Linked DNA regions of Homo sapiens: all the other regions are linked to region 1. The links come from fine-mapping of genetic effects on gene expression. A gene starts in region 1. Each other region holds a variant in brackets. All regions are shown on one strand. Distances are between the middles of the regions. Region 1 holds the start of DHRS7B (dehydrogenase/reductase 7B). Region 2 has its middle 13 kb from the start of NATD1. Region 3 overlaps LGALS9B (galectin 9B). Region 4 overlaps DHRS7B (dehydrogenase/reductase 7B).

Region 1 (7,956 bases):
GACAAACTGGATTTGTCTGCTTCCTACGTTTTCTCAGCTCCTTGGGCATTTGGGGGTGGCTTTGGGGGTGGCTTTGATGGAACACTCTCTCTGACATCACCCCAGGGAAGAGGATGAGTGCTTTCTTACAATTAAGTGGGGTAGAAGTCCAGGTTCTCCATATGGTTTCCACTGATACCATGCTGGGGGAGAGTCTCCTCACCTCTCAGTGGGAATGAAAATCCAGCCCTCGGCCGGGCGCGGTGGCTCACGCCTATAATCCCAGCACTTCAGGAGGCCGAGGTGGGTGGATCACAGGCTCAAGAGATCAAGACCATCCTGGCCAATATGGTGAAACCCCGTCTCTACTAAAAATACAAAAATTAGCCAGGCGTGGTGGCGTGAGCCTGTAATCCCAGCTACTCAGGAGGCTGAGGCAGGAGAATTGCTTGAACCCAGGAGGCAGAGGTTGCAGTGAGCCGAGATTGTGCCACTGCACTCCAGCTTGGGTGAGAGAACCAGACTCCGTCTCAAAAAAAAAAGAAAAAATAAAAAATAAAAATAAAAAGAAAATCCAGCCCTCCACTTGGCCTTCTCTGACACCATGCCAGGGAGAGGGGACAGTGGTGCCTCTTTACAGCCTAGCATGCGTGGCAGTCTAGGCTTTCCAAGAGGCAAGCATGGGGATGGGGCTTTTTCTGTGGTTTGGGCTGGATTAGAGCCATTATTGTGTAAACGTTTTCTGTCCTCTGAGGCTGCCCATTTCCTGGTCCTGTGGCTAGAGAGAGAAGGCTTTTCTTAGGGCATTGTCTTTGCCTGTCGGCATTTCCAGGTTGCTTGCTTCCTAGCACCCAGTCTGGGATATATAAGGCAACACCCACCATGTTGTTCCTTGCGTCCCAGGGTGGCTAGCTGGTTTGCCTTCTCTCCAACTTTTGGAGTCTTAGATTGTTTTATATATAATGCCCACAATTTTTAGTTGTACTTAGTAAAAGGAATAGGGAAAATTGTGTCTAGTTCATCTTCCTGGAAACAAAAATCTTCCATCTTGTTTTCATAGAAGGCCATGGAACTGTGCTAACCACTGGAATCTATTTGTTTTGTTTGTTTGTTTGAGATGGAGTCTCGCTGTGTTGCCCAGGCTGGAGTGCAGTGGCATGATCTCTGCTCACTGCAACCTCCACCTCCTGGTTTCAAGTGATTCTCCTTCCTCAGCCTCCTGAGTAGCTGGGACTACAGGTAAACGACACCATGCCTGGCTGATTTTTTTGTATTTTTAGTAGATGGGGTTTCCCCATGTTGGCCAGGCTGATCTCAAACTCCCGACCTCAGGTGATCCGCCTGCCTCAGCCTTCCAAAATGCTGGATTACAGGTGTGAGCCACTGCACCCGGCCCACTGGAATCCTTTTTGTATAATATCCTGGCTGCGAAGTTAGAGTTTTTACACTTGCATTTGGCAGATGCAATTCAAATTGGTTACCAAAACTTTGAAATATATTGAGTTGCTTCTAAAACAAATTCCATGCAGGATTGAAGAGTGGGTAGGCTAAGAGGGTAGCAGGCCTGGGAAATGAACCCCAGGAAACTGACTTAGTCATGCAATAAAGACTCAGGTGTTACCAGTGGAGAGTGTCCAGGTTCTTGGCGTTTTGAACAAACAATTGGACAAAACGCACAAACAAAGCAAGGAAAGAATGATGCAACAAAAGCAGAGATTTATTGAAAACAAAAGCACACTCCACAGGTTGGGAGCCTGCCTAGCAGGTGGCTCAAGAGCCCGGTTACAGAATTTTCTGGAGTTTAAATACCCTCTAGAGGGTTCCCGTTGGTTACTTGGTGTACACTCTATGTAAAAGAAGTAGTGGCCTGTGATCAGCCTGATTGGTTGCAAGAGGGGACCAATCAGAGGTACCTTCAATTTTTCATCTGCCAGGCAGAAAAGCGGGGCAGGTTGCAAAGGGACTAGCTTCTGTTCCTTTTGTTACCTGGGCATGGAAAGTTCGGGTTTTCCTTTTGATTTAGTTCTAGGAAGTCAGCGTGAATTGGCCTTAGGTTCCCTGTCTCCAGACCCTATTTTTCTGCCTTACGGTTCATATTGGGTTTGCTACAAGGATATTCAAACTTTGTGAATTGGCAAGCAGGAATCTAGAGTTTCCAGAACAATGGAGAGGGGCCAGAAAGGTATAAAAACTTTTGTGAAAACGTCAAAAATAAATATTTAGTTAAAAATAAAATTTCCCATTTTCAGATTTTGTGAATATCTGTAAGAATTTCCAGGATATATTAATTCGCTAAAGTTAATAAAAGCAAGAAACAGAAGGACGTTTCAGAATGCTATTGTTTGTGTAACAAGGGGGTGCTGAATACATACATAATTGCTTGGTTATGAATAAACTGGCTCTGGAAGGACACACATAGCTAATAGCATCGTTACCTAGGGGGAGGTGAAGTGGGTCCTGGAGAACAGAAAGGGAGATTTTCCACCTTACACACATTTGCCATCTTATGATTTTGAACGATAAGAGTCCCCCCGCCCCTTCCTTCCTCTGCCCTGCCCCTTCCTTCCTCTGCCCTTTACTCTCTCAATATCCTCTTTTCATGCTTTTTTTTTTTTTTTAAATCACTTCGGGTCCTTTAAAAAATTTACTTGCAAGAAGTACGTACATATTCTGAATAAAATTCATTTTCAGATATATGTATTACAAATATCTTGTCTGTTCTATTGTCTTTCCCTTTTCTCAATGGGGTCTTTTCGGTGTCTTATAGTTACAGACACCCAATTTATCAGCTTTTTCCTTTAGGACTGGCACTTTTTGTGTTCTGCTAACACGTTATTTTCCTCTCTTATGGTCATAATATTCTGCGATTTTATTGTCTAGAGTTGTATTGTTCACATTCAGGTCTACCATCCGTCTAGAATTATTTTACTTGAGATAGGAGTCAAGGTTCATTTCCCCCCAATCGACCTTCAATTGACCTAGCACTATATATTGAAAAAACTCTTCTTATTGCATTACAGTGGCTACTTGTAGGAGGAAAAAGTGACTACATAGCTGCAGGTCTGTTTCTGGTCTCTCTCTTTTTCATTCATTGTTTTTACCTTTGTGCCAGTTATCACACTGTTCTGATTACTGTGGCATTATAATCATCTTGATAACTGTATCGTGAATTCTCCAACTGTGTTCTTCGCCGGAAGTCCACGGAACACCAACCACGACCTTCGGAATTTCCCTCCGGAAGATGAAGGCACTGTAGTTATGCGGGTGGACCCTATCAGATCTCGGGTCCATCGGGTCCTGTGTACACCTTGAGGGACGCCCACCCAACGCGCATGCGCAGCCTCAATGCTGGGATTGGACGGAGCCTCGCCGGCTGCGTACACGTCACTTCCGAGGCGGGAGGATGAAGTTGATTGACTATGGTCTCTCCGGCTACCAGGTAGGGGCTGGGGAAGAAGGAACCTCCGAGATGAGGCGATAGGGTCTGGCCTTGAGCTGAGGCGACGCCCCGGCTTGGGTGAGGGGAAGCGGTGTAGTGGTCGAGCTAAGGCCGCGGGCCCTGGGCGGCTTCCGGATCCCCGCGACGCCGAACTCTGAAGGAAGACTCAGCCCAGGCGCTGGGACCAGAGCCCTGGCTCCGGCGAGTGCGTGGCGGGGAAACCCGCCTGTCGCCGAGGTGTCTTGAGTCCAGTTTCCGCTGCTGGGAATGGGTGTCGCGCCGGGCGCTGTGTGTGAAAGGCCTCGCGCCCACAGGGCTCCTGGCTTCAACCTGTTTATTCCCACATTTCTGCGCGACGTAGGGGAGGCTCCGCAGCGTCTGCGAGTGGCAGGACCGAGGGTTGAGCGCTGGGGGCCAGTGGCACCTTAGCCAGTGACGGCGAGTTAGGACTAGCAAAGGAAGTCCGGTTTTTCAGAAGGCAGGAGGAGGGTGCTGACTCGAGCGTCCACGGGAATGGCTGGTTGAGATATCTTGCTCTTCCAATACTTACTCTGCGGCTTCCTGGCTGTGCGGCTTTGGGCAAATGTTTTAAACTCTGAGTGTTTCTTCAGCTGTAACTTTGGGAGTAACAAGCCCACTCATAAGGTTGTTGTGAAGCGTAAATGAGACTGCGCGTGCAAGGTGCTCAGCTGGTGTCTGGCACATAGTAGGTATTCAACAAATGGTAGCCACATAATGCTCTTTTTTTCAGTTTCCAAACCTTCCATGTAGTGATTGGAGAATCGTGAAGTTACTTTTGAAGTAACGTTTGGGTTTCACACACTCATACATTTAGTAAGCAGAATTCTTGCTTACACTGTTGCCGATTGCAACGGTGTGTTTGCATAATGGAAGCTATGTTTGTGCCTTTGCCAAGGGTGTGGAATATGCCTTCCCTACCATGTACATGTCCCCTTTTCTCCATTCCTTAATAATAGTTGATATTTTTTGAGTGTTTGCTATGTTACAGGCACTGTACTAATCCCTTTACTGAATTATTCAATCCTGTAATAACCCTAATCATAGGAACTATAATTTTTATTTATGGAGGGAGAAATGGGCTTAGAGATGTTAAGAAGTTTATCCAAAGGCATAGAGCTATTAGCCAGGCAAGGTAGCACACGCCTGTAGTCCCAGCTATTTGTTGGGGCTGAGGCAAGTGGATTGCTTGAACCTGGGAGACAGGCTGCAGTGAGCCGAGATCACGCCATTGCATTCAAGTCTGGGTGACAAAGTGAGACCCTGTCTTGGCTGGGCGCAGTGGCTCACACATGTAATCCCAGCACTTTAGGAGGCTGAGGCGGGCGGATCACCTGAGGTCAGGAGTTCGAGACCAGCCTGGCCAACGTGGTGAAACCCCGTCTCTACTAAAAAATACAAAAATTGGCTGGGCGCGGTGGCTCACGCCTGTATTTCCAGCACTTTGGGAGGCCAAGGCGGGCGGATCACGAGGTCAGGACCTCGAGACCATCCTGGCTAACACGGTGAAACCCCGTCTCTACTAAAAAAATTCAAAAAAATTGGCTGGGCTTGGTGGCGGGCGTCTGTAGTCCCAGCTACTAGGGAGGCTGAGGCAGGAGAATGGCGTGCTCCGGATGGCGGAGCTTGCAGTGAGCCGAGATCCCGCCGCTGCACTCCAGCCTGGGCGACATAGTGAGACTCTGTCTCAAAACAAACAAACAAACAAAAATTAGCCGGGCGTGGTGGTGGGCGCCTGTAATCCCAGCTACTCGGGAGGCTTTGGCAGGAGAATCGCTTGAACCTGGGAGGCAGAGGTTGCAGTGAGCCGAGATGCCGCCACTGCATTCCAGCCTGGGCGACAAGAGCGAGGAGACTCCGTCTTAAAAAAAAAAAAAAAAAAAAAGTGACACCCTGTCTCAAACAACAACAACAACAACAACAAACAACAACAAAGGCATAGAGCTAGTAAAGGCCGATCCAATGCCATGTCACTCCAGAACCTAGCGCTTAGCTACAAATTTCATTCATTCCTTCAGATACTTATTGAACGTTTACAGTGTACCAGCATTGTGCTGGGTGTTGTGGATACAATGATGATCAAAACAGATAAAGCCCCTGTCTTTAAATTGCTTATAAATCTAGCAAGGGAGATAGTAAATATATAAATAAAACTAAATATTAATTACGATTGTGATGCATGCTGTGGAGGACAGTAGAGGGTGCTGTGAGGATACATAATGGAGTCACCGGCATGCGGAGGGGGAAATGAGGAGAGACAGGGAAGGCTTTCCCAAGAAAATAATATTTAGCTGAGACTTAAAGGACTGAGTTGGAGTTAAATTGGACAAAGAGCTAACAGGAGGAGGGAAGGGCATGTGTGAGGTCTTGAGACTAGGAGGAGCTTGTATCTTGTTACTTAAAGACCCCTGTGAGGCTGTAGGTGGTGGCTCACACCTATAATCCGAGCGCTTTGGGAGGCTGAGGTGGGAGGATCATGTGAGGCCAGGAGTTTGAGACTAGCCTGGGCAACATAGGGAGACCCCATTTCTACAAAAAATAAAAAATTATCTAGGCGTGCTGGTGTGTACCTGTTGTCCCAGTTACTCAGAAGGCTGAGTCAGGAGGATCACTTGAGCCCAGGAGTTTGCGGCTACAGTAAACTGTGATAATACTACGGCACTCCAGCCTGGGCAGCAGAGTAAGACCCTGACTCAAAAAAAAAAAAAAAAAAAAGAAAAAGAAAAAAATAAGCATTAAACCAGACTGGAATGTATTATGGATAATATGCTAATGCAGTTTCTTTCAGAAAAGAAATCCCACCACTTATTTGTATGCAGCTGAGCAGATACAACCCATTATGTAGTCTCAAGATTAATGGTAATTTGTCCTCTTATAAGAAGACTTGACAGCACCATTTGCTGTACATGTTTTCATAGTTCATTCTAAATTCACCTGGTAATTGGGTTGGTCATCTGTGCTACCTAGTTACTTTTTTCCAAAGGAAAACATGAAACAGCTCTATGATAAAACAAGTAGTTGAGGTGCCTAGGCTAAACTTCCACAGTGATAGGGATAGGGCTGGGGCATTGTCTTCCTGGATATTTCCATTTAAAATAGGGGGTTTGGCTGAGCACGGTGGCTCACGCCTGTAATCCCAGTACTTTGGGAGGCTGAGGAGGGCAGATCACCTGAGGTCAGGAGTTCGAGACCAGCCTGGCCAACATGGCGAACCCCGTCTCTATTAAAAATACAAAAATGTGTGGTGGCGTGTGCCTGTAATCCCAGCTACTCAGGAGGCTGAGGCAGGAGAATCGCTTGAACTGGGAAGCAGAGGTTGCAATGAGTCGAGATTGTGTCACTGTACTCCAGCCTGGGCTACAGAGTGAGACTCCACCTCAAAAAATAAATAAATAAATAAATAAATAAACTTACGTATGTATGTACGTACGTTTGTAAAGGGGGGGTTCCAGGCCCTTCAGAAAAACAGTCCTGGGTTTTACTGTATTTACTGGGTTTAAACAAGCTAAGCTAGGGGTAGTTTATTTAGCCTTTAAAAAGATTTGCATACATATCAAAGGGACAGAGGAATAATTTATAAATACTGGGTTTTTCAAAGAAATGCTGTGAGGAAAAGGAAGGAGAGAAGATCTCTTTCCCTTTGGAAACAGTGAAAATTCAGTTTTAAAATTTTTACTATATGTTTGCATGACAACTAAAAAAAAAATTTACTTACAGTACAGTAAAATGTTGGACTAGAGCAACATCCATAATGTTGGATGGTGTAGGAATTATTCATTCCCACCCCATTATACACATAAGAAACCTTTCTTTGGTAGCCAATGTTATTTTAATGCAAAAATGAACTCTCTATTCTGGAAGGCCATAAGCATGAGGGTGAAAATTGGGATTGAATGGTGTGTAAATTCAGTTTGAAAGCTTCTTGCCACCCACCCAGATAGGAAATACAACAAATTCCTTAGGATTTTACCTGAGCTCTCCCTCCTATCTTCTAAAGTTCCCAGTAACATGAGGCTTGGCCATTTAAACTGCTTAGTGGAGGGAGAGGTCTGTGATGGCCACTGAATTTGCTACTGGAGAAGAGTCTTGATCCAGACCTCAAGAGAGGGTTCTTGGATCTTGTGTAAGAAATAATTTGAGGCCAATCCATAGAGAAAAGTGAAAGCAAGTTTATTAGAAAAGTAAAGAAACAAGAGAATGGCTACTCCATAGGCAAAGCAGCCCTGAGGGCTGCTGGCTGGCCACTTTTATGGTCATTTCCTGATTATATGCTAAAGAAGGGGTGGATTATTCATGAATTTTCTAGGAAAGGGGTGGGTAATTCCCGGAACTGAGAGTTCCTCCCCTTCGTAGACTATATAGGGTAACTTCTTGACATTGCCATGGCATTTGTAAACTGTTATGGTGCTGGTAGGAGTGTCTTTTAGCGAGCTAATGCCTTATAATTAGCATATAATGAGCAGTGAGGATGACCAGAGGTCACTTTCATTGCCATTTTCCATTTGGTGGGTTTTGGCCGG
Region 2 (7,956 bases), 140 kb after region 1:
TGTGGCCTGAGGCCAGTCACAGTCCTTCTCTGGGCCTCATCTTCCCTTCACAGGGCTCCTGCAGCCCTGATTCTCTGTGCTGCTGAGCTGCCCGCCCCGGGAATCTTGGCTCTGCTGCTGGGGCAGAATAGTGTGAGCAAGGCATGTGGGACGCGTGCTGGTCACCAGCCCAAGCTTCTTCCTAGTGAGTCTACTCCCTTCCCTTGCCCAGACCCCAGTGCCCTGACACCTGCAGACAGAGCATTTGCTTTTTCTTTCCATACCTTTATTGTTTTTCTTTTCTTTCTTTCTTTTTTTTTTTTTTTGAGACAGAGTCTTGCTCTTGTCGCCCAGGTTGGAGTACAGTGGCACTGTCTCGGCTCACTGCAACCTCCGCCTCCCAGGTTCAAGCGATTCTCCTGCCTCAGCCTCCTGAGTAGCTGTGATCACAGGCACGTGCCACCACACCTGGCTAATGTTTGTATTTTTAGTAGAGATGGAGTTTCACCATGTTGGCCAGGATGGTTTCAAACTCCTGACCTCAAGTGATCCACCTGCCTCGGCCTCCCAAAGTGCTGGGATTACAGGCATGAGCCACCATGCCTGGCCTGCCTTTACTGTTTTTCTTTTCTGATTAGAAGCATGAGGAGTGCTCGTTTAAAATTTTCAGAACACACAGAAAAATATCAAGAAGATAAAAGTCATAAATCCACCACTGTTCAGTTTGGCCACATGCCCTCAGACATCTTCCTGATCCTGTAACCATCCATTCATGTACTCATTTACTCATTCATTCACTAATTGACTCATGCACTTGCTCACTCACACGGTGCTTATTGAGCAATTGAGGTATGTTCTGGATTCTGGGAACACAGCGTGAACAGACAGACAAAGCCCTGCACACATGGAGCTCTTTATGTGCAAATAGAACGTTTTCCAACAAGGCTGGGTGCGGTGGCTCATGCCTGAAATCCCAGCACTTTGGGAGGCCGAGGTAGGTGGATTGCTTGAGTCCAGGAGTTCAAGACTAGCCTGGGCATCATGGTGAAATCTCATCTCTACCAAAAATACAAAAACTAGCCAAGCATGGTGGTGTGCACCAGCTTCTTGGGAGGCTGAGGTGGGAAGATCGCTTTAGCCCGGGAGGCAGGGGTTGCAGTGAGCCCAGATCGCACCACTGTACTCCAGCCTGGGGGAACAGAGGGAGCCCCTATCTCAAAAAAAAAAAAAAAGTTTTCCAACAAAATTGTAATCAAATCAGATTATCTGTTTTATAGCTTGTTTTTTATTTTCAATTTAACAATATGCTGTGATCATTTTCCTTTGTTAATATATAGGAAACCACAGAATTATTCTATAAGAATATTTTTAGGCTGAGTGGGCTGGCTCACACCTGTAATCCCAGCACTTCCTGCTGTGGCAGGAGGATCGCTTGAGGCCAGGAGTTTGAGACCAGCCTGGGAAACATCTCTACAAAAAAAAAAAAAAAAAAAAAAAAAAAAAGAATATTTTATTTATTTATTTATTTATTTATTTATTTATTATTTTTTTATTTTGAGATGGAGTTTCGCTCTTGTTGCCCAGGCTGGAGTGCAATGGTGCAATCTCAGCTCACCGCAACCTCCGCCTCCCAGGTTCAAGCAATTCTCCTACCTCAGCCTCCTGAATAGATGGGATTACAGGCATGCACCAGCATGACGAGCTAATTTTGTATTTTTAGTAGAGATGGGGTTTCTCCATGTTGAGGCTGGTCTCGAACTCCTGACCTCAGGTGATCTGCCCACCTTGGCCTCCCAAAGTGCTGGGATTACAGGCGTGAGCCACCACGCCCGGCCCCAAAAAGAATATTTTAAAAGATAATTTTGATTAGGTAATATATTCATGTTTCAAAAACTAAAATGAAGTGTATGTGGGTACCAAGAAAAAATCTACCCACTGCCTTTGTCTGCCATCTGCCTTCTGCCCAGAGCTCCTCCACTTCACACAGGGAAGCATTTTTACTTGTTTCTCATGAATTCTTCCAGTGTTTTCCACACATAAATACAAGTGAATACAAATATATATTCTTCCCCCCCACTTTTAACCCACAAGTTGGCATATCACTTAGCAGTCTCTCCTGGAGACCCGTCTGTCTCTCCCTATAGCACAGCGGTCCACGGAGTGGAGGGACATGGCACTCACAGCTGAAAGATCCTAACCATTCTCCTGGATACAGCAGTCCTTTACCGATGGCTATCTGGGTAATTTCAAAATACAGCATCTTTGTCTCAGTTGTTGATTCTTTCATCTCAGGGATATGTTCATGATCTATCCAGTTCCCTCTTGTTGGGATTTTGATAATTTCCAGTGTTTCACTGCATTGCGATGGATGAGTGTGTTAGTACTTGTTTCCGCCCACCCACCTGATTGTCTTCTCAGGAAAATGAGACCCGAGGGCTCCTCCTAGGCCAGGTGCCATGCTAAGTGCTTCCTGGGAATTCTTTCATCCAGTCCTCACACCCACCCTCGGAAGCAGGAGTTGCACTCATGAAGGGACTGGGCTCTGAGGAGCCTGAGAACTTTCCAAAAGTCTCCTTGGTGGTAGCTCTTGGAATTTGGATCTGAACCCCAGTTGGGGTAAGTCTGGAGTCTGATCTCCTGAGCAGAGAACAAGTGGCTACAAAGTCAATGCATTGTGAAGCCACTGGCACTGATGGGCAGTTGCCTCCCCAGGATAAGGTGCCTCCCCCACCCTGAAGAGACCTGAGGCTCTTAACGATTCTCTGGAATTGGCTGAGCACGGTGGCTCATGCCTGTAATCCCAGCACTTTGGAGGCCGAGGTGGGCGGATCACCTGAGGTCAGGAGTTCGAGACCAGCCTGGCCAACATGGTGAAACCGCGTCTCTACTAAAAAATACAAAATTAGCCGGGCGTGGTGGTGGGCACCTGTAATTCCAGCTGCTAGGGAGGCTGAGGCAGGAGAATCGCTTGAACCCAGGAGGTGGAGGATGCAGTGAGCCGAGATGCGCCATTGCACTCCAGCCTGGGCCAAAAGAACAGAACTCCATCTCAAAAAAAAAAAAAAAAAAGATTATGTGGAATTAATTGAGGGTAAAAAATTCCATGGTGCAGGACCCAGGCAGGTTACAGGATTGCAAGAAATGGCTGGGTGTCAGACAGAGGGAGCAGTGTGGAGTGTGGCAAAGTGGGACCACCTGGTCTGTCCCAGGGGCAGCTTCTGCTCCTTCCAGCAAGTTGTTCCACAAGGGAGCCCTGGGCTAAGTCTTCTGCTTTTCAACAGGAGCTGGAAATCGAATAAAAATGTGAGACTTCTTGATGTTTAAATGGCAGTTAATTTTGGCTGAGTGTGATGGCTCATGCCTATAATCCCAGCACTTTGGGGGGGCAAGGTGGGCGGATAACTTGAGCTCAGGAGTTTGAGACCAGCCTGGGCAACATAGTGAGACCCCGCCTCTACAAAAAATACAAAAATTAGCTGGGATGGGAAGCCAAGGTAAGAAGATCATTTGAGTTTGGGTGGTTGAGGATGCAGTGAGCAGATTAAGTCTTTGCACTCCAGCCTGGGCAACAGAGTGAGACGCTGTTTCAAAAATAAATAGGCTGGGCGAGGTGGCTCACACCTGTAATCCCAGCACTTTGGGAACCCGAGGCAGAGGGGATCACTTGAGGCCAGGAGTTTGAGACCAACCTGGCCAAACCATGGCAAAACCCCGTCTCTTCTAAAAGTACAAAAAATAGCTGGGCATGATGGCATATGCCTGTAGTCCCAGCTATTCAGGGGGCTGAGGCACAAGAATCACTTAAACCCGGGAGGCGTAGGTTGCAGTAAGCAGAGATGGCACCACTCCAATCCAGCCTGGGTGACAGAGCAAGACTCTGTCTTAAAAAATAAATAAATAAATAATAAGTAAACAAACAAATAAATAAATGCCAACTGATTTTAAAACACAGGTAGGTGTGTCTGCTGCTAACTTAGATGGTCGGGAGAGTGAGAGAGAGAGAGAGGCAGAGAGACAGGGAGGGAGAGGGGTACTCTGGCAAATGGGAAACCCTTGCTAGGTCCAGGCAAAGGCCATGTACAGATTCACCCACGATTCTGGCTGTTTGTTTGGAGGTGTTAATTTTTTCAAAATAAGAAAATTGCTCAGGCTGGGTGCGGTGGCTTATGCCTGTAATCCCAGCACTTTGGGAGGCTGAGGCGGGTGGATCACAAGGTCAGGAGTTCGAGACCGGCTTGGCCAATATGGTGAAACTTCATCTCTACTAAAAATGCAAAAATTAGTTGGGCATGGTGGCAGGCGCCTGTAGTCCCTGCTACTTGGGAGGCTGAGGCAGGAGAATCACTTGAACCCGGGAGGGGAAGGTTGCAGTGAGCCAAGATCGCTCCACTGCGCTCCAGTCTGGGCGACAGAGCAAGACTCTCTCTGAAGGGA[A/G]AAAAAAAAAAAAAAGAGCAAATTGCTCACTCTGAAAGAGATAAAACTAAATGTAACATCTGAATCTTGGCTAGCTCTTAGTTTGAAACAAAAAGTCCAGCCATAAAAGACATTTTGGGGACAACTGGGTAACTTGAATGTGGACTGTGTGTTAGATATCTGTGGAATTACAGTGTTTTTTGCAGTGAGGTAAGCGTATCATGGTCTTGTAGAACGGCCGCCTTCTCAGGGAGTGCATGCTGATGGACTAGGGGCAAAAGGTCACAAAGTCAAAAACTTACTTTCTTTTTTTTGTTTAAATGATTTTTAGATAAAGATCGAGGAGTCAGAGGAGGCCTTGCTATGTTGCCCAGGCTGGTTTCGAACTTCTGGCCTCAAGTGATCCTCCTGCCTTGGCCTCCTAAAGCATTGGGATTACATACGTGAACCACTGCTTCTGGCCAGTAACTTACTTTCAAATGATTCAGGGCCAGGTGTGGTACCTCACACCTGTAATCCCAGCACTTTGGGAGGCTGAGGCGGGCCGATCACGAGGTCAGGAGATTGAGACCATCCTGGCTAACACAGTGAAATCCCGTCTCTACTAAAAATACAAAAAATTAGCTGGGCATGGTGGCGGACGCCTGTAGTCCCAGCTACTGGGGAGACTGAGGCAGGAGAATAGCGTGAACTTGGGAGGCGGCGCTTGCAGTGAGCCGAGATCATGCCACTGCACTCCAGCCTGGGCGACAGAGCGAGACCCCATCTCAAAAAAAAAAAGAAAAAAAAAGATTCCGAAAACAGCACATAGCTATGTGTAGAGAGGGGAGTGTGCACGTGGGCAGAGCTGTCAGCACCGGGCAGGTCGCACCAGATGGCAGCTGTGGATTCTGCTTTTGACTTCCTGTGTGCTTAAATTTTACATAATAAAAATTCAGAGGAAAGGGGGGAAAAAGTGACCACAGGGGTGAAACAAAACATATGGGTGCTAGAAATGGCCCCTGGTTTGTGACATGTCATTCAGCCCAATCCTCCCTCAATGCAAGATGGGAAAACTGAGGCCCAGAGGTGGAGGGAGGGTCTCTTCTCAGAGCGGACTTCCCTCCCTAATTCTGTTTTCCTCACACCGCATGCAAGCAGCTGTTTGGGCAGGAGAGGCTGAGGTGACACTTCCTGTCCCTTTGTCTTTTCTCTTCCTGCCAGAGCTCTGTGAGGGTGGTTCTGTTACAGCCCATTTCACAGAGGTGGAAGCTGAGGGCCTGAGAGCAGAAGTTACTTGCCTGAGTCACACATTGAGTTGGGGTGGGAAACTGGTCCCTAGGCCCCCACCTTCCTCCGATCCCTAGATCAAGGGCAATGGCTTTGGATCAGCAGGCCCGGCCTGGCCCCCAGTTTTGCTGTGTGACCTTGGGTGATTCATCTGACCTCTCTGTGCTGCTCCAGGGGTGAGGAGTTAATGAGGTGACCCATGAGAAGGCTCCTGCCCTGCTGCCCTGCACACGATCAATTCTGTCACATATTCCTCTGTCCCTGCAGTCCCTGGAATCTCAGAATCTCCAGCAATTGCCATGGCCCCCGCCCTGCCTTGCTGCTATTTCCCTCCAGCCTCTGTATAGGTTTCTGCGTGTCTCTTCCTGTCAGGGTTTGCCACTAGCCAGGCTTTGGCCCTGAGGGATGGCATAAACTAGTGGAATTTCAGGCAGCAAGAGGCAGAGCGACTGGGGAGATATATGGGACATTCTCACCCCTTGTCTGGAATGTCCTTTTTCCTACACTCCAATTGGCAAACTCCTATTCATCTTCTGAAGCCCAGGTTAAATATCGTCACTCTGAGGAGCTTTCCCCCATCCTCAGCCCAGGTTGGGTCAGTCACCACCCAGTGGCTCCCGCAGTCCCTCTGAGTGCCACCATTATGTGGGTGTGGGTTTTCTTGCTCCATCGCCTGAGAGGGCCTGGGTTTTGCTCATCCCCCTACCCATTTTAAAGAATGGGAAACTGAGACCAGCCTGTAATCATACAGCAAATGCAGGGCAGAGTCCTGAGGGCGAGAGTGCAGGCAAATCCCGGTCTCACCACAGACTCTCTCTCTCCTTGACCTTGGGCCCATCATGTCACCCCCTGAGCCTTAGTTTTCTTGTGTGTAACATGGCAGTAATGGCCCCAAATGCTCACCGTTTTTTCCCTTCATTGAAAGGACTTCTCTGCTCCTCCCTCAGCTTTAATGAAGGATAATTACATACAATAAAATGCAGCCATTTAAGCGCATGGTTTGATGATGTTTGACACATGTATACGGTTGTGTAACCACCACTACAATCATCATACACAACATTTCCTTCACTCCCAAGTTTCCTTCGGGCCCCTTTGCAGTTGATCCCCTCCCCACCCCAGTCCCTTGCCACTACTGATGGCTCTGTGCCACTGTGGTTTTGCTTTTTCCAGAACGTCCTGTGAATGGAATCGTATTGTAGGTAGCCTTTTGAATCTGGCTTTTTTTTTCCGGCGGAATGCATCTGAGCTCCATCTGCACTGTGGCATGTTTTGGGAGTGCATTCCTTTCCTGTCACCGAGTAGTATTGCATTGATGGATATATACCATGTTTTGTTTATCCCTTTCCAAGTTCATAGACAGCTGAGTTCTTGCTAGGTTTTATCTATTATGGAAAAAGCTGTTACTAACCTTTGTGTTCAGGTTTGTGTGTGTGTGTAAACACAGTTATTTCTCTTGGAAGTGAAATAGCTGAGTCCTAAGTAGGTGTATTTAACTTTATAAGAAACTGCCAAACTGTTTTCCAAAGTGATCCTACCATTTCACATTCCCACAGCAATGTATGAGAGTTCCAGTTTCTGCACATCCTCACCAATACTTGCAATTATCTTTTTTTTTTTGAGACAGAGTCTCACTCTGTCACCCAGGCTGGAGTGCAATGGCGCGATCTCGGCTCACTGCAACCTCTGCCTCCTGGGTTCAAGCGATTCTCCTGCCTCAGCCTGCTGAGTAGCTGGGATTACAGGTGCGCACCCCCACGCCCGGCTAATTTTTGCGTTTTTAGTAGAGACGGGGTTTCACCATGTTGGTCAGGCTGGTCTCGAACTCCTGATCTCGTGATCCACCCAAAGTGCTGGGATTACAGGCGTGAGCCACCGTGCCCGGCCTGGAATTATCTTTTTTTAAATTTTTTTAAATTCTTTGTTTATTTATTTTTGAGAGAGGGTCTTGCTCTGTCACTCAGGCTGGAGGGTAGTGGCATGATTATGGCTCACTGCAGCCTTGAAATCCCAGGCTCAAGTGATCCTCCTGCCTCAGCCTCCCGAACAGCTGGGACCACATGTTGGTGCCATCACACCCAGCTAATTTTTTTTTTTTTGAGACGAAATCTTGCTCTGTCGCCCAGGCTGGAGTACAACGGCGCGATCTTGGCTCACTGCAACCTCCGCCTCCCGGGTTCAAGCGATTCTTCTGCCTCAGCCTCCGAGTAGCTGGGATTACAGGCGCCTGCCGCCATGCCCTGCTAATTTTTGTATTTTTAGTAGAGACGGGGTTTCACTATGTTGGCCAGGCTA
Region 3 (7,113 bases), 660 kb before region 1:
GGGTCAGCCAGGCCTGCGTGAGGGTCGGGGGCCCTCCCAGCCACTGACAAGCCACGTGAGCTCCTCTCTGTTCCCAGACAGCCCACCTTGGGAGGGAGGAAGGGGTGGGAAACAGCCCTGATACAATGTTAGTATTTTGAATGGACTTAGTAGTTTCCAGAAAAGGCCTTGAAACCGAAAGAGACCAAATTACTTCGGATGTCAATTTTCAGTATTTTCATGTCAGCAGAAGGAGAGCTTCAGAGTGGATGAAAGCAGTTATGGGAAACGGAGGAAGTTTGATTTTTGCAACTCTCAGTCACAGTGTGCAAGGTTCAGCCCAGAACATAATCATCCAACTCTGACCATCCCACTCCTTCCTTAGACCTTCAGCTCCCAGGGCCCCATTCATCCTGGAGTCCAGGTTAATGGCATCCCTGGGTGCAGGTTGTGCCTGTGGAGTGCTGTCCTGTGGCATGGGTTAAGGATGCATTGGGTCTCCCCTGCGCCAGGCACGTGAGCTTGGATGTTGTTGTTTGAACTAACCGAGGCTCACAGGCACAGTGGCTTTACTAAGGGACGAGGCTGGAGTGAAACGTTTCCATCCATATACACACACCTGGTTCCACTGGAGCTGAGAACGGCCCCATTGACAGTGATCTGAAATCCGTCCTGGAGACCCCCTTGGATAGTCCCAGAAAAGGGGACGGCCTGCAGGGAGAAGACATGGGGCCTCAGTCAGGTGGCCGGCCTCCTGTTTGCTCCCCTTCGGGGCTAGTCAGTGGCTGGCCTGGGTGTGACCGCACCATGCGAGGGGCTAGGGTGCAGCTGTGACCAGGACAGAAGGAGTCTCAGCCCCACGGGTCTTAGGGTCCTGTGTGGAGGCAGACACAAATCCAATTAGTTACTCAGACAGTCTAAGCTTGTGATAAGGAGAATCCTGGCCCTGAGAGGACGCGACAGGGAGCTGAGCTTGTGTGAGAGTCTGAGAGGCAGCGGAGGCCACACCAGGAACGCTCCAGGCGGAAGGCCTTCCTTCCAGGCAGGGAAGTAGCAGGCAGACGCCCTGGGCTGGTAAGGAACTAGGTAGCAATGGGGCTGCTGGACCCCATGCCAAGCTCCCAGCAAAGTGCCCAGCGCCCTGGCTGGGGACTCAGGAGGCCCAAGGGAACAAAGGGACCCATCAAGGGTCTGCAGGTTCCACCGAGAGGGTCACCAGAGAGTGTCAAGAAGAAGGCATGCACCTCTCCCCACCACCACCATATAACAATGGCCACCATGACCTTTGCCCTCCTGACCACCTTCAGCAGAGCCTCTTCCCAGATGCCCTCCGCAGCCCCGAGCCCCAGCGTAGTTTCCCCACCCATCCCAGGCCCCGTGGGCAAGCACTTTGTCAAATTCTCTCTTCCGCGCCTCTTTAAAGGAGCTATGGGCCATGGTGAGGCATGCATCGTTTTGGAGTCAGGCGGACTCCAGGTCTGAATCCTAACTCTGCTGCTCCTGACCTGAGTGGCCTTGGGAAGCCTATTTCACCTCTCTTTGCCTCAGTTTCCTCATCTGTAAAATAGGAAGGTGTTTCTCCTACTGCATATGATTGATGATTTTGTGAGAAAAAGCCTGTGGTAGAAGAGACTGGCACAGAGGAGACGCTTCACCACTGTCACCCACCCCCACCTTGGTCTCTCTGAGCAAAATTCACAAACTGGTACTTCCAATCTTCAAAGTTTATTCCGAAATGCCTCATATCCGGTGTGGTTCTATAACCTGCATTAAAGCACAGTTCTATCTCATGGCTGATTTTCACATTCTTCAAGTTTTTAATGTCTTCTCTAATATCTCCTTTAGGTCAATTTCCTACACAAATTAAATGCCTAAAGAAGCCAGGCAGGTGATGTGTATGAGTCAGATGGCCAGGTAGGGAGTGGTGGGGACTGTGGCAAAGTAGACGTCACACGCCTCATCTAAAAAGTCAACATCTTCTCAGCACTAACCAATGATTACCATCTGGGCTTAGTATTGGCAGAACTTCCAAATTTTTAAGATGAGACAGAAACCTGAATTTTTTTTTTTTTTTTTTTTTGTAAAACTTTCTAATTTCTTGGGGGAAATCTTTTGTCAAAAAGGATTATGTAAAAGTTCCTGACTGGGCACAGTGGCTCACATCTATAATCCCAGCATTTTGGGAGGCTGAGGTAAAACAATCACTTGAGCCCAGGAGTTTTAGGCCAGCCTGGGCAACATAGTGGGACCCCCATCTCTACAAAAAATAAAAAAATTGGCCAGATGTGGTGGTGCACACCTTTAACCCCAGTTACTTGGGAGGCTGAGGTGGGAGGATCACTTGAGCCTGGGAGGTCGAGGCTGTAGTGAGCCACGATTGCACCACTGCACTCCAGCCTGGGCAACAAAGCGAGACCCTGTCTCAAATGAAACTCCCCAAATTCCCACATTGTAGAGATACACAATGAAATATTTACAATGGAATGAAATCTCTGGATTTGCTTCCGCATATCTGAAGGTGGGAAGAGAAGCAAGCGAGGGAGGGTACAGGATGAAGCAAGATAGGCCTGAGTTGATCATTGTTGGAGCAGAGTGATGGGTGTGTGTTGTTGATGGTACAATTCTCTCTGCATGTTTGAATTTCCTATAATAACAAGTTAAAGTAAACACTGTGTAGGCCAAACAGAAAACACCCACTAGCCAAATTCAGCCTACTGGTCACTGCTTTCTGGTCTGTATTGTTGAGTTATGTGACCACACAGCACCCTGGGAAACCCATCCTAGCTCAGTGTACACACCTGGCACCGTGAAAGCCCCAGGCAATCTGAGATCTGATCCAGATAGTCTCTGCTCCCCATGGATTTGAGGGGGTTGTCTTTTCTTGCCCCTCAGGTCAGGTCTGAACTCTGCCATTAAATACTTTGGTGACCTCAAGCAAATCACAGCTTCTCTGTGTCTCTGACTTCTCTTTCTTGTCCCTGTCTACACCAGCGGTGTGGGGGAAGGAGAGTCAGCCTGATCCAGTTATGGGCCAGCATGGGCTAGGATTGGGAAGCCTGTTGTCCCTGAAACACGTCTGTGGAAGATTTTTCCCCTTGCCTGTTTGTGGCAGCCTGTGATTCCCTCCAGAGCCTTTCATTCTATCATGAGAGACAACGCTGAAAATACACACCCTCCTGGGAAGCATGCGGCCTCCACTCAAGCGTATTCACACCACAGCACCTAGAATTGAAGGCAGAGAGTGATGGACATGGGCTCGCAAGTCCACACAAGGCTTAACTAAGGAAGCCAGGAGGGAGAAAGACCAAGTACAGGTCATGGGGGCAGGACAGGGCAGGCTAATCTCCAAGGCAACAAGTTCCCCAAAAAAGTTCTGTGAGGTTTCAAAATGTCTTAAATGGCACCCCCAATTTCTGAAAAACAAGATTATTTTATTATTTATTTTATTTTATTTTATTTTGAGATGGGTTCTCACTCTGTTGCCCAGGCTGGAGTGCAGTGAGGAGTGTGATCATGGATCACTGCAGCCTCCACCTCCTGTGCTCAAGTAATCCTCCCACCTCAGCCTCCCGAGCAGCTGAGACCAAATAAGTGCAGGCCACCAAGCCATACCCCACTAATTTTCAAATTTTTTTGAAAAGACCAGGTCTCGATATGTTGCCAGGGCTGGTCTTGAACACCTGGGCTCAAGTGATCCTTCTGTCTTGGCCTCCCAAAGGGCCGGGATTTCAGACATGAACCACTATGCCTGTCCTGAAAAATGAGATTTTAAATTGAATATCATCCAACAAACAAGGTTATTCATTGCAGCATTATAACACAAAGGATTATAAAGCAAAGCATTGGAAGGAGCCTAAAAGTCTTCCAACAGGGAAAAGGTGAAATAAATTAGGGTATTTCCATATAATAGAATAAGTTCTGTGTAGCTTTCAAAAGAAAAGAAAAAGAAGACGGAAAAGAAAAAAGAAAAAGAGGAAAACTCTGAGCACCGATATGGAATAATGCCATTTGCATAAAAAGTGGGTAGGGGAAGGCTATGGACTTGCATTTATTTATTTATAGATAAAATATCTCTGGAAGGATTTACAAGAAACTTATAATACTGGTTATCAGTGGGCGACCCCCCAGAAACATCCACATTCGAATCCCCGGAAACTGTGAATATGTTGTAGAAGGGACTTTGCAGATGTGATTAAATGCATAATTTTGGCATGGGGAGATTGTCTTGGATTATAC[A/T]GGTGGTCCCAATGTAATCACAAAGGTCCTATAAAAGGGAGCAGGAGGATCAAAGTCAGAGGTAAGAGATGTGACAACAGAAGCAAGAAGCTGGTTTTGGGGGTTTTGTTTGTTTGTTTGTTGTGTTTTTTTTTTTTTTTTTTTTTTGAGACAGGATCTCATTCTGTCACCCAGGCTGGAGTGCAGTGGCATGATCTCAGCTCACTGCAGCCTCCACTTCCCCAGGCTCACGCGATCCTCCCACCTCAGCCTCCCAGGTAGCTGGGACTACAGGCATGCACCACCATGCCTGGCTAATTTTTGTCTATTCTTTGTAGAGACACAGTCTCAGTTTGTTGCCCAGGCTGGTCTCCAACTCCTGGGCTAAAGAGATCCTCCTGCCTCAGCTTCCCAAAGTGCTGGGATTACAGGCATGAGCCACTGCACCCAGACAAAGCTGCTGGTTTTAAAGATGGCAGGAGGGGTCATAAGCCAAGGCAGGCAGGCAGCCTCTAGAAGCTGGAAAAGCAAAAGAAACAGATTCTCCCCTGGAGCCTCCGGAAGGAAACAACCTTGCTCACACGATGATTTTAACATCTGCCCTCCAGAATCATTAAGAAAGCAAATTTGTTGTTTTAAGATTGGCCAGCCAAGGCTGCTGTGGAATTTAGATCCGTGTGTCCAGGAAACCCAGGAAAACAACTGGACCTACTTTTGCTCCGTAGGGTGCAGGAGGATGGATTTTTGTGTTGGATTTGTGGTCCCATGGGCCTGGGCTCGCCTCCCAGCTCTGTACACTAGCAATTCTGACACTGGCCAAGTCACTTGACCTGCCTGTGCCCCACTTCCCTCCTCTGAATGGCAGGGCAGTAACACCACCCGACAGTGTTCTGGAGAGGACTGGGTGCAATGCTGTGTGCTGAGTCCCTGGCTGGCAGCATTCTGGAGAGGACTGGGTGGAATGCCATGTGCTGAGTCCCTGGCTGGCAGCGTTCTGAGAGGACGGGGTGCGATGCCATGTGCTGAGCCTCTGGCCCATGTCGGCCTTGACAGTGCAGCTCTTTGCATGGAACAAATCAATCCCTCTGCTGAGTCAGAACTTGCTCTCTGTTCCTGGTTGTGCCCAGAGACCGGGGACTTTCCCTCTTCTTCCTACCTGGAAGTCAAAGCAGAGCTGAGCCCTGCGGACCAGAATGTGGGCAGCCTCATTCTGGACTCAGCATCACCAGAGGACACCAAGGCCTGGCCCCAGGAGTAGGGAGCTCAGCCTGGCTGGCCGAGACTGCCTGCCAGCTGGAGCCAGTACGTGGCCCTTAGCCAAAGTGCCCTGTTGCCTCAGAGGCTCCACGGTCCTGCTGGCCACCTTTCATGACACTTTGATTTTAGCCTTCTGACCTCCAACACTGTAAGCACAAATGTGTTGTTTTAAGTTGGCCAGCTAAGGCTGCTGTGGCATTTGGATCCATGTGTGTCCATGAGGGCTCTGGGGGTGACCGGGAACATTTATCCTCACAGCAACCCCGGCCACTTTTACAGATGAGGAAACTGAGGCACAGAAAAGTTCAGTCACTTGCCCAAAGCTACACAGCTGGTCGGCAACAGAGCTGGGATTTGAACCCCAGCACCCACGCTTCTAACCACCACACAGGCTTCCTCTCATGAGGAAGCTCGGAACGTCCTTATTCCTGGCTCTCGCAGTGCTTCCTGGGCCACACAGCAGGTGGTTCCAGCTTCCCCCCAGCCCTCCAAAGAGGCTGGGCTAGATGAGGCCAGACAAGAAGTGGGAGTGAGGTTTCCAAGCCAGGCCCTCATGGCACTCAGCCCTCCTCAGCAGGACAGTGAACCGCGTGACCTTCCCCCACTGTCGGCATGTGGAGAAAGCGTGGCTCCGACTGCCAGATGGGTCACCGAGTGAGGCTCAAGTGTCCCAACCCAGGGGAGCCCCCGTAGGGTAGAGGGGAGCTCTGGACACCTGTGGGGGCTGCACTGATCGTCTTTCTTGTCTGAGCTCCAAGGCCCCGCTTTAACTCTCTCAAACTCTCTGATGTGCATAGGAGGATTTTCCTTCTGAATCCAAAGATTAGAAAGTAAAAACCAGTTACCAGAATAATAATATGTCAGAACCTGGAAGAAGCTCTGGGATCCCCTCTCTGGCAGAAAACCAGAAACGGGGTGACATGCTCAAGGTGGCATACGCTGACTCTAAGGCTCGCCCAACACCGGCAGCCCGTTCCAGCTTCCCCCACTCCCTCTATGCAGGTTCTACCTTGGGGGCTTCCATAGGGTGGCTGAGGGGTCATTGGTGACAGCCAGGAGGAAACAGGCCTCCTTTCTCCATTCTTCCTCTCTGGAGTCTAGAAAGCAGAGCTGAGCTCTGCAGACCAGAACATAGGCAGCCTCATTCTGGACTCAGTATCACCAGAGGGCACCCAAGCCCGACCCTGGCCTCTGCTGAGGTGGCCCCTGGCAGCTTCCCTGCCCTCAGCACCCTGCCTCTGCCCACCCTCCCCATTCTGTCTCCCCACTCAGGAAGGGCCCATCAGCCCACCCACTCCAGCCCCTCGGGAAGCTCTTTGCCAAGGCAGGGTGAGATCCTGTGACAGGACCCAGCCCAGGACACAGTCACCCCTGAAGGCTCCTGGGCTCCTGGGGCTGCCACTCCCATCTGGGGGCATTTGGCAACTGGCCTTTGCCTCCCTGAACCTTGGATTTTCCGTGAATGAAGGGGACTCATAAACCTCACAGAGTTTCAGCAAGGCACCTGCAGCCCTCTGACCCCACACTGCAGGGACAGTCCCTGCCTCCGTCACCTCTGAGACTGTCCGTCTACAGATGCCCTGACATGCCTATGCCTGGTTAACTCCGCCTCACCCTTCAGAGCACAGACACCTCCTCGGGAGGCCTTCCCTGCTGCCCCCA
Region 4 (7,956 bases), 32 kb after region 1:
TGCTCCTTTATCAGAAAGACAGATTTGGCATGCAGAAAATTAGTAAGAACATAGTTCAACTCAACAGCGGTCAATTGGATATAGTTAACATGTATAAACTACTTTGTCCAACAACAGCAGATTATACATTCTTCCCAAGTGAATGAAACATTCACTTAGACCACATTCTAGGCCACAAAACACACCTTAATAAATATAAAGGAACAGAAATACATTGTCTGCTTCCAGACCACGATGGAATTGAACTAGAAATCAGTAACAGAAAGATAACTGGAAATCCCCCAAATAGTTAGTGATTAAACAACATACTTGTGAATAACACATGGGTTAAAGAAGAAATCTCAAGAGAAAACTGAAAATATTTTGAAGTAAAAGAAAATGAAAACCTTACCAAATTTGTAGAATGCAGCAAAAGCAGTGCTTAGAGGGAAATTTATAGCATTGAATGTATGTATTAGAAAAGAAGAAAGATCTAAAATCAACAATCTAAGTTTATACTTTAGGCAACTAGAAAAAGAAGAGAAAATTAAATCCAAAGTAAGCAGAAGAAAAATAATAAAAATTAGAGCAGAAACCAATGAAATTGAGAATAGGAAATCAGTACAGAAAACCAACAAAACTAAAAGCTGGTTCTTTGAAAAGATAATAAATAAAATCAATAAGCCTCTAGTCCAGCTAAGAAAGTTAGCTAAAAAACTAAGGCACAAATGACTAATATCAGAAATGAAAGCAAGGACATCACCACAGAGCCCATGGACATCAAAAGAATAATAAATGTAGCCGGGCGTGGGGGTTCACGCCTGTAATCCTAGCACTTTGGGAGGCAGAGGCAGGTGGATTACCTAAGATCAGGAGATTGAGACCAGCCTGGCCAACATGGTGAAACCACATCTCTACAAAAATACAAAAGTTAGCCAGGCATGGTGTTGTGCACCTGTAATCCCAGCTACTTGGGAGGCTGAGGCAGGAGAATCGCTTGAACCTGGGAGGTAGAGGTTGCATTGAGCCAATATTGCACCACTGCACTCTATCCTGGGTAACAGAGTGAGACTCCATCTCAAAAAATAATTATAATAAAAAAAATAAGCCGGGCGTGGTGGCTCATGCCTGTAATCCCAGCACTTTAGGAGGCCAAGGCAGGTGGATCACCTGAGGTCAGGAGTTCGAGACTAGCCTGGCCAACATGGTGAAACCCTGTCTCTACTGAAAATACAAAAATTAGTTGGACGTGGTGGCATGCACCTGTCATCCCAGCTATTCGGGGGGCTGAGGCAGGAGAATCGCTTGAACCTGGGAGGTGGAGGTTGCAGTGAACTGAGATCATCCCATTGCACCAGCTAGGGTGACAAAAACAAAATTCTGTCTCAAAAAAAAAAAAAAAGAATGCTATGAATAACTCTGTGCCCATTTCTTGATAACCTAGATGAAATAGACCAATTCCATGAAAAGACAATCTGCCAAAACTCACGCAATAAGAAATAGACACTCTGAATGGGCCTGTATCTATTAGAGAAATGGAATCAATAATAATAACTTTCCCAACAGAAAGCACCAAGCCCAGATAGATTCACTGATGAATTCTACCAAATAATTAAGAAAGAATTATACCAATTCTCTACAATCTCTCCCAGGAGGTAGAAGCAGAGAGAATACTTTCTAACTCAACCTATGAGACTTCCATTACCCTAATACCAAAACCAAAGATATTACAAGAAAATAAAAATATGTACCAATGTCTCTCATGAGCATAGATGCAAATATCCTCAAAAAATATTAGCAAATTGAATGCAATAATGTATGAAAATGACCAAGACCATGACCAAGTGGGATTTATCCAAGATGTGTAAGTCTGGTTCAATATTCAAATCAGGCTAGGCACAGTGCTCATGCTTGTAATCCCAGCACGTTGGGAGGGCTGAGGTGAGAGAATTGCGTGAGGCCAGGAATTCAAGACCAGCTTGGGCAACAGAGCAAGACCTCATCTCTACAAATAATAAAATCAGCCAGGTGTGGTAGTGTACACCTGTGGTCTCAGCTACTTAGGAGGCTAAGGTGGGAGAACTGCTTGAGCCTGGGCAGTTGAGGGTGCAGTGAGTTGTGATCATACCACTGCACTCCAGTGTGGGCAAGAAAGTGAGACCCTGTCTCAAAACAAAACAAAACTAATGTAATCTGGCTGGAGGTGGTGGCTCATTCCTGTAGTCCCAGTACTTTGGGAGGCAAAATGGTGAAACCCCATCTCTACAAAAATGACCCAGGTGTGGTGGCACACTACTGTAGTGCCAGCTACTCAGGAGGCTGAGGCAGAAAAATTACTTAAGCCTGGGAGGTAAGGGCTGCAATGAGCTGAGATTGCACCACTGCACCCCAGCTTGGTTGACAGAGTGAGACCCTGTCTGAAAAAAAAAAATAATAATAATCCATCACATCAACAAACTAAAGAGGAAAAAAAGTCACATGATCATATCAGTAGCTGCAGAGAAAGTATTTGACAATATCTATCTCTGATTCATGATTAAAACTCTCAGCAAATCGGAGTAGAGGGGAACTCCCTCAACTTGATAAATACTTAAAAAAAACTACAGCCATCATACTTAATGGTGAAGAACTCAGCTTGCCCACTAAGATCAAGAACAAGGCAAGGATGTTCCCTCTCACCACTGCTTTAAAAAAAATTTTTCCCACCCAAATCTCATATTGAATCATTACTGTTTTTTAACATCATACTGGAAGTCCTATATAGTGCAGTAAGACAAGAAAATGAAATAAAAATTGTAGAGATTGGGAAGGAAGAAATGAAAATGTATTTGTTCACAGATGGCAATCATTTATGTAAAAACTCTGAAAGAATAAGAAACTAAGCAAAGTTGCAGGATACAAGGTTAATGTATAAACATGAATCACTTTTCTGTATACCAGCCGTGAACAAGTAGAATTTGAAATTAAAAAGACATTAAGTATGAACAGGTTTTTTAATGAGGCAGACTATAAAACTGTGATGAAATGTATCAACTAAATAGATATTCCATGTTCACAGATAGAACAACTCAATAATGTCAAGATATAATTTCTTCCTAGCTTATCTATGGAGTCAATGCAATCCCAATCCAAATCCCAGCAAGTCATTTTATGGATATTGACAAACTGATTATAAAGTTTATGTGGAAAGGCAAAAGACCAAGAATAACCAACTCAATATTGTGGGAGAAACAAGTTAGAGGACTGACGCTACCTGACTCCAAGACTTAGTATAAAGCTACATTAATCAGGACAGTGATATTGGTGAAACAACAAGTAGATCAATGGAACAGAATAGAGAGCCCAGAAATAGACTCACATAAATAGAGCCAACTGATGTTTGACAATGGAGAAAAGATAGTCTTTTCAGCAGATTGAAACACTATCTGCATGCAAAAAAAAAAAAAAAATCTAAACACAGACTTCACAACTTTCTCAAAAGTTAACTCAAAATGGATCATAGACCTAAATGTAAAATGCAAAACCATGAAACTGCTAGAAGATAACATAAGAGAAAATTTGATGACCTCGGGTATGGTGGTGACTTTTGGGCATGATCCATGAAAGAAATAATTGATAAACTGGACTTCATTAAAATTAAAAACTTCTAGTCTGAGAAAGACTGTGTCAAGAGAATGAGAAGACAAACCACAGACTAGTAGAAAATATTTTCTTTTTCTTTCTTTCTTTTTTTTTTTTTTAAAGACGGAGTCTTGCTCTGTCGCCCAGGCTAGAGTGCAGTGGCGTGATCTTGGCTCATTGCAACCTCC[G/A]CCTCCCGGGTTCAAGTGATTCTCCTGCCTCAGCCTCCTGAGTATCTGGGATTACAGGAGTGCACCACCACGCCCGGCTAATTTTTTTTTTTTTTGTATTTTTAGTAGAGACGGGGTTTCACTGTGTTGGTCAGGATGGTCTCAAGCTCCTGACCTCATGATCCTGCTGCCTTGGCCTCCCAAAATGTTGGGATTACAGGCGTGAGCCACCGCACCCGGCCAATATTTTCGAAAGACACATTTTAAAGGACTGTTATCAGTTGGAATGGTGGCTGATGTCTATAATCCCAGCACTTTGGGAGGCCAAGATGAGAGGATCACTGAGCTCAGGAGTTTGAGACCAGCCTGGGCAAGATGGCAAGACCCTGTCTCTGCAAAAATTTTTTTAAAGTTAGCTAGTCACAGTGGTGTGTGCCTATAGTCCTAGCTACTTGGGAAGCTGAGGCAGGAGAATCCCTTGAGACCAGGAAGTTGAGGTGGCAGTGAGCCACTGCATTCCAGCCTGGGTCACAAAGCAAGACCCTGTCTCAAAAAAAAAAAAAAAAAAAAAAGGACTATTGTCTAAATTATACAAAGAACTGTTAAAACTCATCAATGAAAAATAGGGCCAGGCATGGTAGTTCATGCCTGTAATCTCAGCACTTTGGGAGGCTGACGTGGTGGATCATTTGAGGTCAGGAGTTCAAGACCAGCCTGGCCAACATGGTGAAACCCTGTCTCTACTAAAAATACAAAAATTAGGCCTGGCGTGGTGGCTCACGCCTGTATTCCCAGCATTTTGGGAGGCCGAGGTGGGTAGATCACAATGTCATGAGTTCGAGACCAGCTGGGCCAACATGGTGAAACCCCGTCTCTACTAAAAAATATACAAAAATTAGCCGGGCATGGTGGTGTGGGCCTGTAATCCCAGCTACTCGGAAGGCTGAGGCAGGAGAATCGCTTGAACCCAGGAGGCGGAGGTTGCAGTGATCCAAGATCATGCCAGTGCACTCTAGCCTGGGTGACAAAGTTAGACTCTGTCTCAAAAATAAAAAAATTTAAAAAATTAAAAATGAACAACACAACAAAAAAAAATGGACAAAAGATCTGAAGAGACCTGAGTGAAGAAAATATACAAGTGGCAAATAAGCATATGAAAAGATGCTCTGCATCATATTTCATAAGGGAAATGCAAATTAAAATGACAGTGAGATACCACCACTAAATAGGATGGCCAAAATCCAGAACATTGACATCACCAAATGCTAGCAAGGAAGTGGAGCAATAGAAACTCTTATTCATTCCTAGTGGGAATGCAAAATGCTATACCCACTTTGGAAGACAGTTGGTAGTTTCTTACAAAATGAAATGTACTCTTAACATACACCACAGTAATCACACTCCTTGATATTTACCCAGATAAACTGAAAACCTATATCTACTCAAAAACCTGCACACAGATGTTTATAGCAGCTTTATTCATAATTGCCGAAACTTCGAAGCCACCAAGATGTCTTTGAATGTATAAACTCTGGTACATCCAGACAACTGAATATTATTCAGTACTAAAAAAAAATGAGCTATGAAGCTATGAAAAGACATGGAGGAAACTGAAATGTATATTACTAAGTGAAAGTAGTCAATCCGGAAAGGCTATGTACCATATGTTTCCAAGTATATGACATTCTGGAAAAGGCAAAACTGTGGAGATAGTTAAAGGTTCATGGGTTGGGGAGGAGGGAGAGATGAATAGGTGGAGCACAGAGGATTTTTAGGGCAGTGAAACTATTCTGTATGAAACTACAATGATAGATATATGTCAGTATACATTTGTCCAAACCAAGAGAATGCATAGCACTGAGAGTGGGCACTAATGTAAACTTTGCCCTCTGGGTAACAATGATGTGACAGCATAGGCGCATGGGTTTTAACAGTGTAACACCGGTGAGGGATGTGGATAATGGGGGAGGCTGTACTTGTGTGGACACAGGGGTGTATGGGAACTCTACTTTCCGCTCAGTTTTCCTGTGTACCTAAAGTTTGTCTTAGAAATTTTATTAATAAAAAAATGGCAGCTATGAGGCAGTAGAACAGTATGTTCAAAGAATATACATGAAATTCTGTATCTAAAACTATCCTTCAAAATTGAAGGTAAGATAAAGACATTCCCATATAAACAAAGACTGAGATAATTGGTAGATTGTAGATTTGTCCTTCAAGAAATGCTGTATTAAAGGAAGTCCTTTAGGCTAAAAGGAAATGACTCCAGACATTATCTTGAATCCCCAGGAAGAGGGCCTTGTGAGAGAAATAAGAAGAGAAGACATGTATCTGTGAAGAAAAGTGGGAAATCTAACAGTGGGTGAAATAGATTGATTACTTACTGTATGACTGTCCGAAAGAGACACAGCCGTGTCCTCAGGAAATATTTGCTAGGACGCTTGGTAAAAGAAAGTGATAGGGCACCTGCTAGGCTATTTTTAAATGAAATCATAGATGTTGGGAGTGGCACAGCCTTCTCAGCTCATGACACTTTGCTTCCCAGTCAGTTCTTCCCACATGTGCCCTTCCTCCTCTGTGTTTGCTGGCATTAAAAGTCAGTGTACTAAACGTTTTCAGGAGAGTTGTTATATAAACTTTCAAAACCTCCCTTAGAATAAAGAGCATTTTCTAGTTAAATTTCACAAAAATGTTTTTCACACAGCTCTAAAAATAACTTGGAATTCAGGGTGAGCCATCATCCTAGATAAATTACAGTAAGGCACATTTGTCTGAGAGAAAGGGAGCCAACAGAGACATGATGATTTATCTAACTTTGTGAGGAAACCAAGACAGGAATTTGTTAGAATTCAAAGTATTATGATTTCAACCATGAGACTACATGAAATTAAGCAACATTTAATGTTTAATCCCTAGCGAATGACATACTTTTGCTCTGGGATGTGATTTGTTTGCCGTAATTCGTTTTAGTGATATTTTGCTGAGATAAAGCTGCAGGAATGTTTGCTTTTCTTATGGCAACTGGCAAATAGTTAAAATGGACTGTGAGAACATTTGTTCTTCAGGATTCTGTTTAATACTGAGTGTAGGCAAATAAAACAACACATCTGGGCTCTGTTTTTTTCTGTAATCTGATGGTATTGGATTAGATTATTTCCATGATACAATCTTATTCAACAAACATTTATGAAGTTCTCACCACATAGATGGTGTGGGAGTCAGAATAAAAGGCCAGACCCTCAGAGAACTGCTGTCTTGGGAGGCACGTGGCAGTGAAGGGAAATCATTGTGATGTTTTGTGAGATGCTATGGAGGCTACACTGAAAAGGAAGTGATTAACCCTGTCCAGATATGGAGGGCAGGGTTGCTGGGTGGCTTGAAAGGTTTCAGGGAGATGGTGCCCAAGCAGGACTTGAAGATTGGATAGGAGTTATCAAAGAGGACAGCAGGCAAGAACGAACTTCTAGAGACCCAATTTTTCTTCTGCTTTCTACTTATCAAAAAGTATTTAGCATTGAGAGTGTTTTCTATAATGAAGGCTCTTAAAATTATTATTTAATATTTCTTGAACATGCTTGGTACCATTTAAAATACAGGTTTAGGCCGGGCACAGTGGCTCACGCCTGTAATCTCAGCACTTTGGGAGGCTGAGGTGGGTGGATCATCTGAGGTGAGGACTTCGAGACCAGCCTGGCCAGCATGGAGAAACCCCGTCTCTACTAAAAACACAAAAATTAGCTGGTTGTGGTGGCGGGCACTTGTAATCCCAGCTACTCAGAAGGCTGAGGCAGGAGAATCGCTTGAACCCGGGAGGCAGAGGTTGCAGTGAACCGAGATCGCGCCACTGCACTACAGCCTGGGTGACAGAGCAAGACTGTCTCAAAAAAAAAACCAAAAAAAACCAAAAAACAAAAAACACAGGTATAATCTAAATAATCAAGTTAAATTAGAAACGGCTTTGGTACATTGTCAGGACACTAGGGGGACATTTACTTCTGGAGTTTTTTTCAGTTCTGTGTATTTTACTTCTTGAGTCTTTGTGCTGACCACTCTATTTCAGTGAATTGAGTTCCCTTTAAAAAGCATATCAGAAAGTAAAACTGCTTTTGTTGTGTTTCTATTCAGCTACAAATCTCCCAGAGTCTGCTTGCAGTGAAGTGTTAGTAATGAGGTCTCTTCTGTCCCCACT

Evidence for each region. PIP is the estimated chance that this variant, and not a neighbour inherited with it, causes the effect. A credible set is the group of variants that fine-mapping cannot tell apart.
Region 2: its variant is the best candidate, but not a certain one, in a credible set for the expression of DHRS7B in whole blood (INTERVAL, PIP 0.64).
Region 3: its variant is the best candidate, but not a certain one, in a credible set for the expression of DHRS7B in whole blood (INTERVAL, PIP 0.60).
Region 4: its variant is the best candidate, but not a certain one, in a credible set for the expression of DHRS7B in whole blood (INTERVAL, PIP 0.61).

What each region holds. Positions count from the first base shown.
Region 1 is chr17:21,123,574-21,131,529 of GRCh38, forward strand. DHRS7B (dehydrogenase/reductase 7B) reads left to right here and starts at 3,391. Exons shown (of 7, transcript NM_015510.5): 1 at 3,391-3,418. The coding sequence starts at 3,399. RefSeq lists an enhancer at 3,053-3,712.
Region 2 is chr17:21,262,762-21,270,717 of GRCh38, forward strand. No RefSeq gene overlaps it. Among named protein-coding and RNA genes, the nearest start is that of NATD1, 13 kb to the left of the region's middle. RefSeq lists enhancers at 6-575, 5,778-5,827. The variant A/G (reference allele first, on the strand shown) is at 4,414.
Region 3 is chr17:20,459,754-20,466,866 of GRCh38, forward strand. LGALS9B (galectin 9B) reads right to left here. Exons shown (of 11, transcript NM_001367292.2): 2 at 599-690. Among named protein-coding and RNA genes, the nearest start is that of LGALS9B, 4.2 kb to the right of the region's middle. The variant A/T (reference allele first, on the strand shown) is at 4,216.
Region 4 is chr17:21,155,546-21,163,501 of GRCh38, forward strand. The region is part of intron 1 of DHRS7B (dehydrogenase/reductase 7B); the gene reads left to right. Among named protein-coding and RNA genes, the nearest start is that of DHRS7B, 33 kb to the left of the region's middle. The variant G/A (reference allele first, on the strand shown) is at 3,789.